Linked DNA regions of Homo sapiens: region 2 is linked to region 1. Evidence: fine-mapped expression QTL. A gene starts in region 1. The other region holds a variant in brackets. All regions are shown on one strand. Distances are between the middles of the regions.

Region 1 (5,374 bases):
TTTTTTTTTTTTGCGATGGAGTCCTGCTGTGTCACCCAGGCTACAGTGCAGTGGCAAGATCTCGGCTTACTGCAACCTCTGCCTCCCGGGTTCAAGCGATTCTTCTGCCTCAGCCTCCTGAGTAGCTGGGATTACAGGCACACACCACCATGCCCGGCTAATTTTTGTGTACTTTTAGTAGAGATGGGGTTTCGCCATGTTGGCCAGGCCGGTCCTGAACTCCTGACCTCAGGTGATCCGCCCGCCTTGGCCTCCTAAAGTGCTGGGATTACAGGCGTGAGCCATCACGCCTGGCCCTTAAGACCAAATTCTTAACATGGCCTAAATTTCCTGCTCAGTCTGGCGCCTGCCTTCCTCCTCCCTGCCCCTGGCTTTGGTCACACTGCTCTGCAGCCTCAGTAGCCTTCTTCTGATTCCTCGAAGACATGTGTTTTCCTTCTACAAGGTGTTTGCATGTGATTTCCATGCTTCCTGGGACCTCTTCTCCTACTCTCTAAGCTGAATTAACTTCTACTCATCCACTATATTTTAGTTCAAACGTCATGTTCTCAGAGAAGCTGTCCTCCAACCCTCTCTCCCTATCCCCGAGACCAGTTTAGCTACTGCTCTTGTGCGTTCTCAAGGCACCATACAGCTTTTCTTCATGGTACATATTACATTTGTAATGTTATTCTTATTTGATTTTTCTCCTAGATTGTCAGCTCCAAGGACTCAGTCTCTTTTGCTCACAATTATATCTTCAGGACATAACACAGTGCCTGGCATATATTAGGTGCTGAAATCATATTTATTGCATGAATAAGTGATTGGAAGCATTTTTCAAAGGATTACTCTGGGTACTGTGTTGAGAACAGTTAAAGGGAGGTAGGCAAGAGGGTATGCTATTAAAGTAGTCAAGGAAAAAAAATGGTGGTGGCCCAGATTAACTTTGGTGGCAGTGAGGAAAGAGCGAAATGAATGGATTTGAGAAATATTTAGGCAGTGGATGTGACAGAACTTGGTGAAATGAGATGCAGAGAGTGAGAGAGGGGTTAATCTCAAGTCTTGCTCATGACTCCAGATTGGCAAAGAGCCATTTTTGAGATTCGAAGGAAGAACAGATTTGGAAGTGGGGTACAGAGAAAACCACAGAAGATAATTTAGCTTGGAATCTATAGGTTTGGAACTCCTGTTTGTCTTTCAAGGAGATGTCAAGAGAGCAGCTGGACATATGAGTCTGGATTTCAGGAAAGAAGTCTGGGCTGGATATATAAATTTGGGAATCATTAGCATATATATGAAATTTGAAGCTTTGGGAGTAGATAAAATATCTGGGGAGAAAGAACAGATACTGAGAGAAGACAGCTCGGGACAGAGCCAAGAGCCTCACCAGCATCTAAAGAGAGGAGGAGAGGAAGCAAATGAGATTGAGAAGAGCAGACAATGCTGTAGGGCAGAAAGCAGGAAAATGCTTCAAGGAGAGTGAGTTGACATACCCCACCGAATACTACTCAAAGGTAAAGGAGATAACAGTGTCCACTGGAGTTCTCCACAAGGAGGTCTCCGGTGACCTTGGCCTAGACAGTTTCAGTGGGTGTCAGGGACACAGAGTGGAGTGCTTTTAAGAATGAATGGGAAGTAAGGAAATGAAGACAGCAAGCGTTGACTCTGAAGGGCGGAGAGAGCTGGGACTATAGCTAGAGGGGCTCAGAATGCAAGAGATACACAGGCCGATACAAAACAGGTTAGGAATTGGCAGTGGGAAAACTGCTTCTAATCAGTGTTCTTGGCAGTGCTAGGCCTCCTGGCTGAGCTGGGGACACAGCCGCCCCAGGGCACACCCCTCGGTCGCTGAGGGCAACAGAATGCGGCTTGACAGATCCAGGGCCTGGGACCCCTGCTGGAATCGGCGCGGCCTGCCAGCCCACCCCACCCCACGTCCCCTTCCCGGACCTGGGCCTCCCCTCCCCCAACACCCACTGCCCCTCGCTTCGCGTCCTCCATACCCGCCCCTAGTCACCCCGAGGGGCAGGAGGTAAAGGGCAGCGGAAGGGACGGTGTGAGGGCCCGAGTGGACCCTGCGATGGTGGGTATGAGAGGACGGTCTGCGGGCGCGCGGTGGAAGGGCGACCCGGGGATGGGGGATGGGGCCGGCCGGGGGACCCGGGCTGCCGCAGGGTAGGGGCTACAGGGTCCGCCGGCCGCTGGTGATCGGGACGCAGCCACCGGGGCTGGGCCGGGGCAGGGACACCTCCTACCTGCGCGGTGAGGCCCCGGGCCCAGATGACGGAGGTGGCTCAGGCTGCGGGGTTCGGGCTCCGCCGCGGCTTCTCCATCACAACATCCCCCGCCCAGGAGCGCGCGGGCCGCGGGGCCGCGCCCCGAGCGGCGGAGGCGCGCGCAAGGGGAGGGGGAGGGGCGCCATCTTGGGGCGGGCGCGGGAGCGAGCTCGGCGGGCGCGGCACTTGCCGCAGCTTCTTGGGGGCCTCACCCTGCGGGCGGCCCTCGGACCTCGGTGAGCCCCGCGGTCCAGCCCTCCCAGCAGACACCCCTGCAGCCGACTCCCTGGGACCCCCGCCTAGCGCGGCGCCGTCCTCCACTACTATTCCACAGACTCACCCTGCGCGCCCCGCAGCGCCCTGGTCCCGCACCCACGCCGGGAGACGCGCGGACGGGGCTGGAGCCCGAATGGCGGCGGCTGTGCGGCGCCGCGGCCGCGCGGGGAAGGATTCCCGGGAGGCACTCTGCGCCGCTCCTGCTGCACCGCTCCCTGACGTCCTGGTGGGGAGGCTCTGAGGACACAGCGTTGCTCATAATAATAGCTCGTATTTATTGACCACTTACACCGTGCCGGGCTCTCTATTAAACCGTTAACGCGCATTAATCTTCACATCAGCTCTGTAAAATCACCAGAATTATTATCCTCATTTTTCAGAGGCTGAGGCTAAGATTAAGAGAGGTAAAGCGACTTGCCCGCAGTCACAGTTAGTGATGAATTTAGACTGGAACTCCGATGTTTCTTGACACTGAAATACCTCTGCTGCTGAGCATAAAGCTGACATCAAGGCCTGGAAAATGTCAAGAATACATTGCTCCCCGGTAGAAATTCACAAGGAAGGGGATATTGTGAATGAAAAGTGTAAAGATGTAAGGAAGATGGTGGGGTGCAATACTTACTACAGACCCTCCCTGGATAGTGGGATACATCCCAATGGTCAGATCAGTGACCCAGAGGCCATCAAGGATAATGAGAGGTTATATTACCATCCAGAAAGCCTCTACATGCTAATCCCTCTCAGGTGCCTAAAACTAAAGATATCCAAATCTGAGTTCGTTCTTTCTTTCAAGGCAGGGTCTCACTCTGTCACCCAGGGGCAAGATCATGGCTCTCTGAAGCCTCAGCCTCCAGGGCTCAGATTCCTCCCGCCTCAGCCCCCGGAGTACCTGGGCCACAGACATGTGCCACCGCGCCTGGCTTTTTGTATTTTAGTAGAGAGGGGGTCTCACTGTGTTCCCCAGGCTGGTCTGGAACTCCTGTGTTCAAGCGATCCTCCCACCTCGGCCTCCCAAAGTGCTGAGATTACAGGCGTCAGACACAGTGTCCAGCCTCAATTTATTGTTTCATCCCCCTTTATTAGTCTTTTAAGGAGTTTCACTGGGGTGAAAAAGAACCCTCTTCAACACACACAACACAACACACATCCCACACTGGACACAACTCCATTCCATCCATTCCAATGAATGACACCAACTACTGGCTTCCCAAGCCAGAAGCTTCAAAGTCATCTTTGAATATACTTTTATTTTACTTGTGGTAAATATAAATGTTTTAACTTTTTATTATGGCAAATTTCCAATATATACTAAAGCAGACAGAACAATATAATGAACCCTCATATACCTATCATTCAGTTTCAACAATTATGAATTCACAACCAATAGTTTATAATGATTTGACAAATGCCTATGATATATGAACCATGTATCAGGTCCCAAGCCAGGCCCTAGGGATCTAAAGACGAATCAGATTTGACTGCATCTCACCTGGAGGAAATGACATCTGACCTGGGTTCTTGAAAGATGAAGAAGAATTACCCAGAAGAACAAAAGTGTCCTCATTCATTCATTCATTCATTTTCTTTCATCAAATAATTACTATGTATGAGGTACTGTCCTTGGTGCTAGCAACAGGTCAAGAAACAAGATACAGTTCCGTCTCTCATACAGCTTGAAATTTAACAGGGGAAAGAGACATTAAATATGTAATTAGGAATGTGATGAGTGTCTTGAAGGAGATGTACCGGGAGCTATGTGAGTGGGCTTAATTTGGCCTGGGAAGTTTAGGAGGCTTTCATAGGAAGTGACAATTCAGTGAGGGAAAGGGATGAAGGAGCTAGAGGTCAGCCAGGAGAAGAGAAAAGTATTCCAAGTAGCAGGAGAAATACAGGAAGGTCAGTATGGGTGTTGATATAGTTTGGATATTTGTCCCTGATCAAATCTCATGTTGAATTGTAATCCCCAATGCTGGAGGTGGGGTCTGGTGGGAGGTGTTCAGGTCGTAGGGGTGGATCTCTCATGGCTTGGTGCTGTCTTCCCCATGATGAGTGAGTTCTTGTGAGATCCGGTTATTTAAAAGTGTGTGGCATGGCCAGGCGTGGTGGCTCAGGCCTGTAATCCCAGCACTTTGGGAGGCCAAGGTGGGCAGATCAACTTGAGACCAGGAGTTCGAGAACAGCCTGGTCCACATGGTGAAATCCCATCTCTATTAAAAACACAAAAAAATTAGCTGGGCATGGTGGCGGGCACCTGTAGTCCCAGCTACTTGGAAGGCTGAGGCAGGAGAATTACTTGAACCCAGGAGGCGGAGGCTGCAGTGAACCGAGATCACGCCACTGCACTCCAGCCTGGGCAGCAGAGTGAAACTCCATCTCAAATAAATAAATAAATAAATAAATAGTGTATGGCACCTCTCCCCCCACACTCTCTTGCTTCTGATCAGCCATGTGGGATGCCTGCTCCCACTTTGCTTTCTGCCATGAGTAAAAGCTTCCTGAGGACCCCCTGGAAGCCAAGCAGATGCTGGTGCTATGTTTCCTGTATAGCCTGCAGAACTGTGAGCCGATTAAACCTCTTTTCTTTTCTTTTTTTTTTTTTTTTTTTGAGACAGAGTCTCGCTCTGTCCCCCAGGCTGGAGTGCAGTGGCGCAATCTCGGCTCACTGCAATCTCCGCCTCCCGGGTTCACACCATTCTCCTGCCTCAGCCTCCCAAGTAGCTGGGACTACAGGCACCCACTGCCATGCCCAGCTAATTTTTTGTGTTTTTAGTAGAGATGGGGTTTCACCGTGTTAGCCAGGATGGTCTCAATCTCCTGACCTCGTGATCCGCCCGCCTTGG
Region 2 (5,374 bases), 24 kb before region 1:
GGCCCTCTGGAAATGATTTCCCCCTTTTTTTTAAGTGCTCCAGTTTTTCCCACCTTATCCATCCCATGTCATCTTCCCTCTGTGTGGTCCTTGCTTCCCATTCTAGCTAACTCTTATCCCTCCCCCATACTCCTGGAGCCCTCTGCCCTCAGAGTCTTTTGTGTCACACAGACCCAATAATTAGAACTGTTTGGTCTCTGGCTAGACTGTGAGCTCCTTGCAGGTGGGGAAGATGTCATGTATGCTTTTACCCTCCACCCAAATGCCCAGCACAGGAGGACCAGGATTGGAACAAGTGTTGACCTCTCATGTTTACTTTGTTTCAGAATTGGGGGGTTCTATGCTCTTTCCCCATACCCCGGTCTCCGCCTCATCTCTCTCAATATGAATTTTTGTTCCCGTGAGAACTTCTGGCTCTTGATCAACTCCACGGATCCCGCAGGACAGCTCCAGTGGCTGGTGGGGGAGCTTCAGGCTGCTGAGGATCGAGGAGACAAAGTGAGGGCCAGTAGTGGGAACACGGTGGTGCTGGGGGACAAGCAGGCTCCTGTTGAGCTGGAGCACCTCTGGGCACAGAAGTTTTATTTTCCTGGCATTCCCAACAAGTGTTCCCTGGGGATTCAGCTCATGGTCACTGTTGAAAGCCTTCATTCAGTCCCCCTTTCTCTAGCCAGGGCTGCCTGGACCCCTGGATGCCCTGATTACCATCCTTAATTCTCCCTACTAGGTGCATATAATTGGCCACATTCCCCCAGGGCACTGTCTGAAGAGCTGGAGCTGGAATTATTACCGAATTGTAGCCAGGTAGGACGGAGATGAGGGTGGGAATAGGGACAGGGTGAGTGTCTGAAGGCTGAAAATTCCCTTGAGCATCTCACCATCCCTGTTGTCCCATGGAGTGGGGAGGCTCCTCACTAGAACAGGTTGGAGAAAGAGGGCATCCTATCTCCCCAGATGTCTTCCTACCCCTCCCTAGAATCTTCTGAATGTAGTACCTTCTGGCCAGGTATGAGAACACCCTGGCTGCTCAGTTCTTTGGCCACACTCATGTGGATGAATTTGAGGTCTTCTATGATGAAGAGACTCTGAGCCGGCCGCTGGCTGTAGCCTTCCTGGCACCCAGTGCAACTACCTACATCGGCCTTAATCCTGGTGAGTGAGGCAGAAGGGAGCCTCCCTTATCCTGGAGTTGGTGGGATAGGGGAAGGAGGTTGGAGCCAGAGCCTGCAAAGCATGGGCAGGATGTGTGGCCCCTCCCTGGAGTTACCCTTGCTCCTTGCCCCTCCAGTCAGCCCCACATCCTTGCAGGTTACCGTGTGTACCAAATAGATGGAAACTACTCCGGGAGCTCTCACGTGGTCCTGGACCATGAGACCTACATCCTGAATCTGACCCAGGCAAACATACCGGGAGCCATACCGCACTGGCAGCTTCTCTACAGGGCTCGAGAAACCTATGGGCTGCCCAACACACTGCCTACCGCCTGGCACAACCTGGTATATCGCATGCGGGGCGACATGCAACTTTTCCAGACCTTCTGGTTTCTCTACCATAAGGGCCACCCACCCTCGGAGCCCTGTGGCACGCCCTGCCGTCTGGCTACTCTTTGTGCCCAGCTCTCTGCCCGTGCTGACAGCCCTGCTCTGTGCCGCCACCTGATGCCAGATGGGAGCCTCCCAGAGGCCCAGAGCCTGTGGCCAAGGCCACTGTTTTGCTAGGGCCCCAGGGCCCACATTTGGGAAAGTTCTTGATGTAGGAAAGGGTGAAAAAGCCCAAATGCTGCTGTGGTTCAACCAGGCAAGATCATCCGGTGAAAGAACCAGTCCCTGGGCCCCAAGGATGCCGGGGAAACAGGACCTTCTCCTTTCCTGGAGCTGGTTTAGCTGGATATGGGAGGGGGTTTGGCTGCCTGTGCCCAGGAGCTAGACTGCCTTGAGGCTGCTGTCCTTTCACAGCCATGGAGTAGAGGCCTAAGTTGACACTGCCCTGGGCAGACAAGACAGGAGCTGTCGCCCCAGGCCTGTGCTGCCCAGCCAGGAACCCTGTACTGCTGCTGCGACCTGATGCTGCCAGTCTGTTAAAATAAAGATAAGAGACTTGGACTCCAGACCCCTGTGTGACTGTCCCAATTTCTTCTTTCCAGGCAAGCAGGGCAAGGAGATCTTTGGAGCAAGATCATAACTGAGGCACAGGCTAATGGGTTGATGGTGTGGTACAGGCATAAGAAGGCACACAGCAGTGCAGACAGACTTTATTAGTGATATCAATACAGCAGAGGTGCCCATGGAGCAGGGGGAAGGGACCCATGCCTGGACCAGTCCCTTCCTCCTTCTGCCCCTGCTGGGTCCAGGAGGATGAGGCCTGGCCTGGACCAGTTCCTCCTGTTCCACCTGAAACACATGGGGATGGAGAACCAGGGCTGGCCTTGCTTCCTGCTCCTCTTGTTACCACTCCAGTGTTATCACTTCCTTGAAGGGATTAGATCTCTCCCTCCCCAGCTCCTAGGCAGGGAACCGTAGCTACTGGGGAGGGGCATATTTGGGAGGCCTGAGGCCTAGGAATAGCCTCTAGACCCCTCCCTGACCCACACCCTTTAGTTCCCTGGGGCCCAACACAAGCAGGTGGAGGGAAGGTGGGGGCTTCTTCATGGGGTATGGGCCCCCAGCCGTTTGGGCTTCAGGGAGCCCCACAGCGACTGAACACCCCTGCGGACAGTCCACCCTACACGCCGTGCCACAGACTCAGCAGGGGGTGCTGGGAGGCAGGAGGTGGAGGCCTGGGAACGGGCATCCAGACACTTCTGGTAGCGAAGCTGCGGAGGCAAGCAGGGCAGTCACTC[C/T]CCAGCCTACCTCCCATGGGGCCACGCCACCACCACACCACCCTACTAGTAGCTTACCATGCACGCAGCCTGCACAGCCTCTGAGAGGCTGGCAGCATTGGGCTCGCACCAGAACATGTGGCAGCAGAAGGAGGCTGGGCCGGCAGCCATGATGAATGCAAACGTGTGGACATCTCTGCCCACGGCCAGGAAGGAGAGGAAACGCACCCGACACTCTCCCAGCACTGCCTCTGTCTGCATGGAGGGAACTCAGTTAAAAAGGAACACCAACCCCACACTGTGTTCCACATCCATCTTAGCAGCTCTTCCCCTCACCCCCAGTCTCCCCTCTATGGCAAGGCGCAGCCACGACTTCTACCCCAGCTCTTTACCTGCTGGTGCAAGATGGTGAGGGTAGCAGGGGCCACACTGACATGACTTGGGGTCCATTGTTCACGGCTGCTGGAGGACAGGACTGACTCGAGGGCCCCATTAATCACATCTACCCCTAGAACATATGGACACAAGATACCACTGAGGGTAGACAGAGGATACCCCAGCTCTACCCTGGACCTCTAGTTCCACCCAATCAAACCCAGGGCCTTTGCCCCATCCCCACTTTGCCAGCCTACATTTTGGACAACGCTGTCCAAGTATCCCTTCCCTGGGGCTCTCCTCCCCTGGCTTCAGTAACTGGACATTTTCCTACTTTTTAAAATCTTGGATCCTAGGCTCGTTATTTTCACCGGCTCTGCCTATTCCTCCACACTTCTGAACTGACTGACCTCTCAAAGTTCTGATTTCCCCAAATCATGCTCTCTCAGCGCTCATCACACTCAGACATCACATTGCTTCACACCACAATAACTCCCAAATCAGACCCTACAGGCCAGTCCTCTCCCAAGACCCAATTATTTTTTAAGATATCTATCTGAGGAGTGATTACTCTGTATCACATTGTGCTAAGTCATTACAGTGTATTACCTCATTTGTGCCCACACAACAACATCACAATAGATTACTTTATTTCCATTTTACAAATAAGGAAACGGAAGAGATAGGTAATATGCCTTAGGTCACATCGAGGAATGGGGACCTGAGCTCAGGCAGTCTGATTCCAGAGCCTGGGTTCTTAGCCATGCCTTTCTCCTACCTCTTCTCTATATTACTAGTTTTCAGAACTAGAAGGGCTTTCAAGATCTTAGTTCTACTCAAGAATGTCTATAATGTGCTCAAGAGCCAAGGAACCCAAGGTTCCTGACTTTCAGATCAATCAACTTTCCCTTATAACACATGGCCTCCTCCACCTCAAACTGCTGTTAAACATTTCCCCTCATGGATCCCACTTTTGCTTGCACTCAGCAGAGCACCAAGGCAGGAGCACATGTTGTGGCAAAGGCATCAGTTCTAGTCCCCACACTCATACGCTGGCTGTGTGATCTACTGTCTCTGCACAATGCCAGTGCAAAAGGCACATGCCTCTGTGGTCCACTCCCAGGCCCTCTGCCCCTTTTAGTGGCTCTCAGCTCCCACTAGGAGCAGACCACGTGGACTCTTTTGGGCAGAGGACAAATGTCTTCCTTGCATGTCTTCTCCCATCTTGGCCTTGCTCATCTGACTTCTAGCTGGATCAAGGCCAAACTGCTCCCAAAAGCATACAAGTCTTCCAAAAACTGGCCTCACCAGAGCTGTCAAGCTTCATATTTTACTGCTCCCTGAGCTTCAGATGATTTGTGTAGCATTATTATTAACAACTAATCTTGGCAAATGGCCTGTAAAGCAGATGGGGAATACAAAGCAAGAGAAGAGAATGCCCTTGAGAGACACAGACTGCAACTGAGGGAAAAGCCTCTGTCTTGAGTGCCCTTTCCCTGCTGGACTGAGAAACTTCAGACTGTCATCCTTCAGGGCTCCAACTAGGTGCTGTCTAGGAAGCCATGCCTGCTGCAGGGCAGGGAGAGGACAACTCTGAGACAACTCTTACCATAACGTCTTGTAACTGCTGGAAAACTTTTTTCCACACTGGGCCGTGGCCATCTCAAGAACAGAAATGGAATTTAATTCATCCCTCTGTCCCCAATTCTAACACAGGGCTTATCTGCTGAAGAAATTCCAGATGCATGAGCAAGTCACTCTCAAGGCAACAAGGGCAAATGCACCCGAACTGGTAAAACCAAGTGTCACAGAAGTGGATGGGCCAGGTCAGATTGCAGAGTGCTTCAAAAGCCAGGCAGAGGGGTGTGATGTTTATGACATTTAGGCCAGGGCAATTGGAAATCTCAAAGTTCAGGTGTGTGAAAGGGACATCATAGTCAAACTGCTGAATAGATGGGGCTGTGGGAGATGGAGCCTGGCCTCAGAGTCTTGGGAAGTTTGGCAGGGAAGCAGTGAAAGCAGTGGACCAAGGTATGGAAAAAGGCTGTCAGATTTGATAACTCAGGACTAAAACCTACACTGTGACCTTGACCTCCAGCCCCACATGCAATCCCCCTAATCCTGCTGTGCTTTTCTCTTCTTTTTTTTTTGTATCAGTTGTTGCCTTCTAACATACTCCAT

The links. PIP is the estimated chance that this variant, and not a neighbour inherited with it, causes the effect.
Region 2: its variant is fine-mapped to the expression of APBB1 in whole blood (TOPMed, PIP above 0.99).

The regions. Positions count from the first base shown.
Region 1 is chr11:6,416,748-6,422,121 of GRCh38, forward strand. It overlaps APBB1 (amyloid beta precursor protein binding family B member 1), which reads right to left and starts at 2,347. Exons shown (of 15, transcript NM_001164.5): 1 at 2,238-2,347. RefSeq lists silencers at 2,115-2,304, 2,315-2,714.
Region 2 is chr11:6,392,890-6,398,263 of GRCh38, forward strand. It overlaps SMPD1 (sphingomyelin phosphodiesterase 1), which reads left to right. Exons shown (of 6, transcript NM_000543.5): 3 at 327-498; 4 at 728-804; 5 at 1,007-1,152; 6 at 1,309-2,107. The coding sequence ends at 1,718. It overlaps APBB1 (amyloid beta precursor protein binding family B member 1), which reads right to left. Exons shown (of 15, transcript NM_001164.5): 13 at 3,211-3,326; 14 at 2,897-3,073; 15 at 2,236-2,812. The coding sequence ends at 2,645. Among named protein-coding and RNA genes, the nearest start is that of SMPD1, 5.1 kb to the left of the region's middle. The variant C/T (reference allele first, on the strand shown) is at 2,840.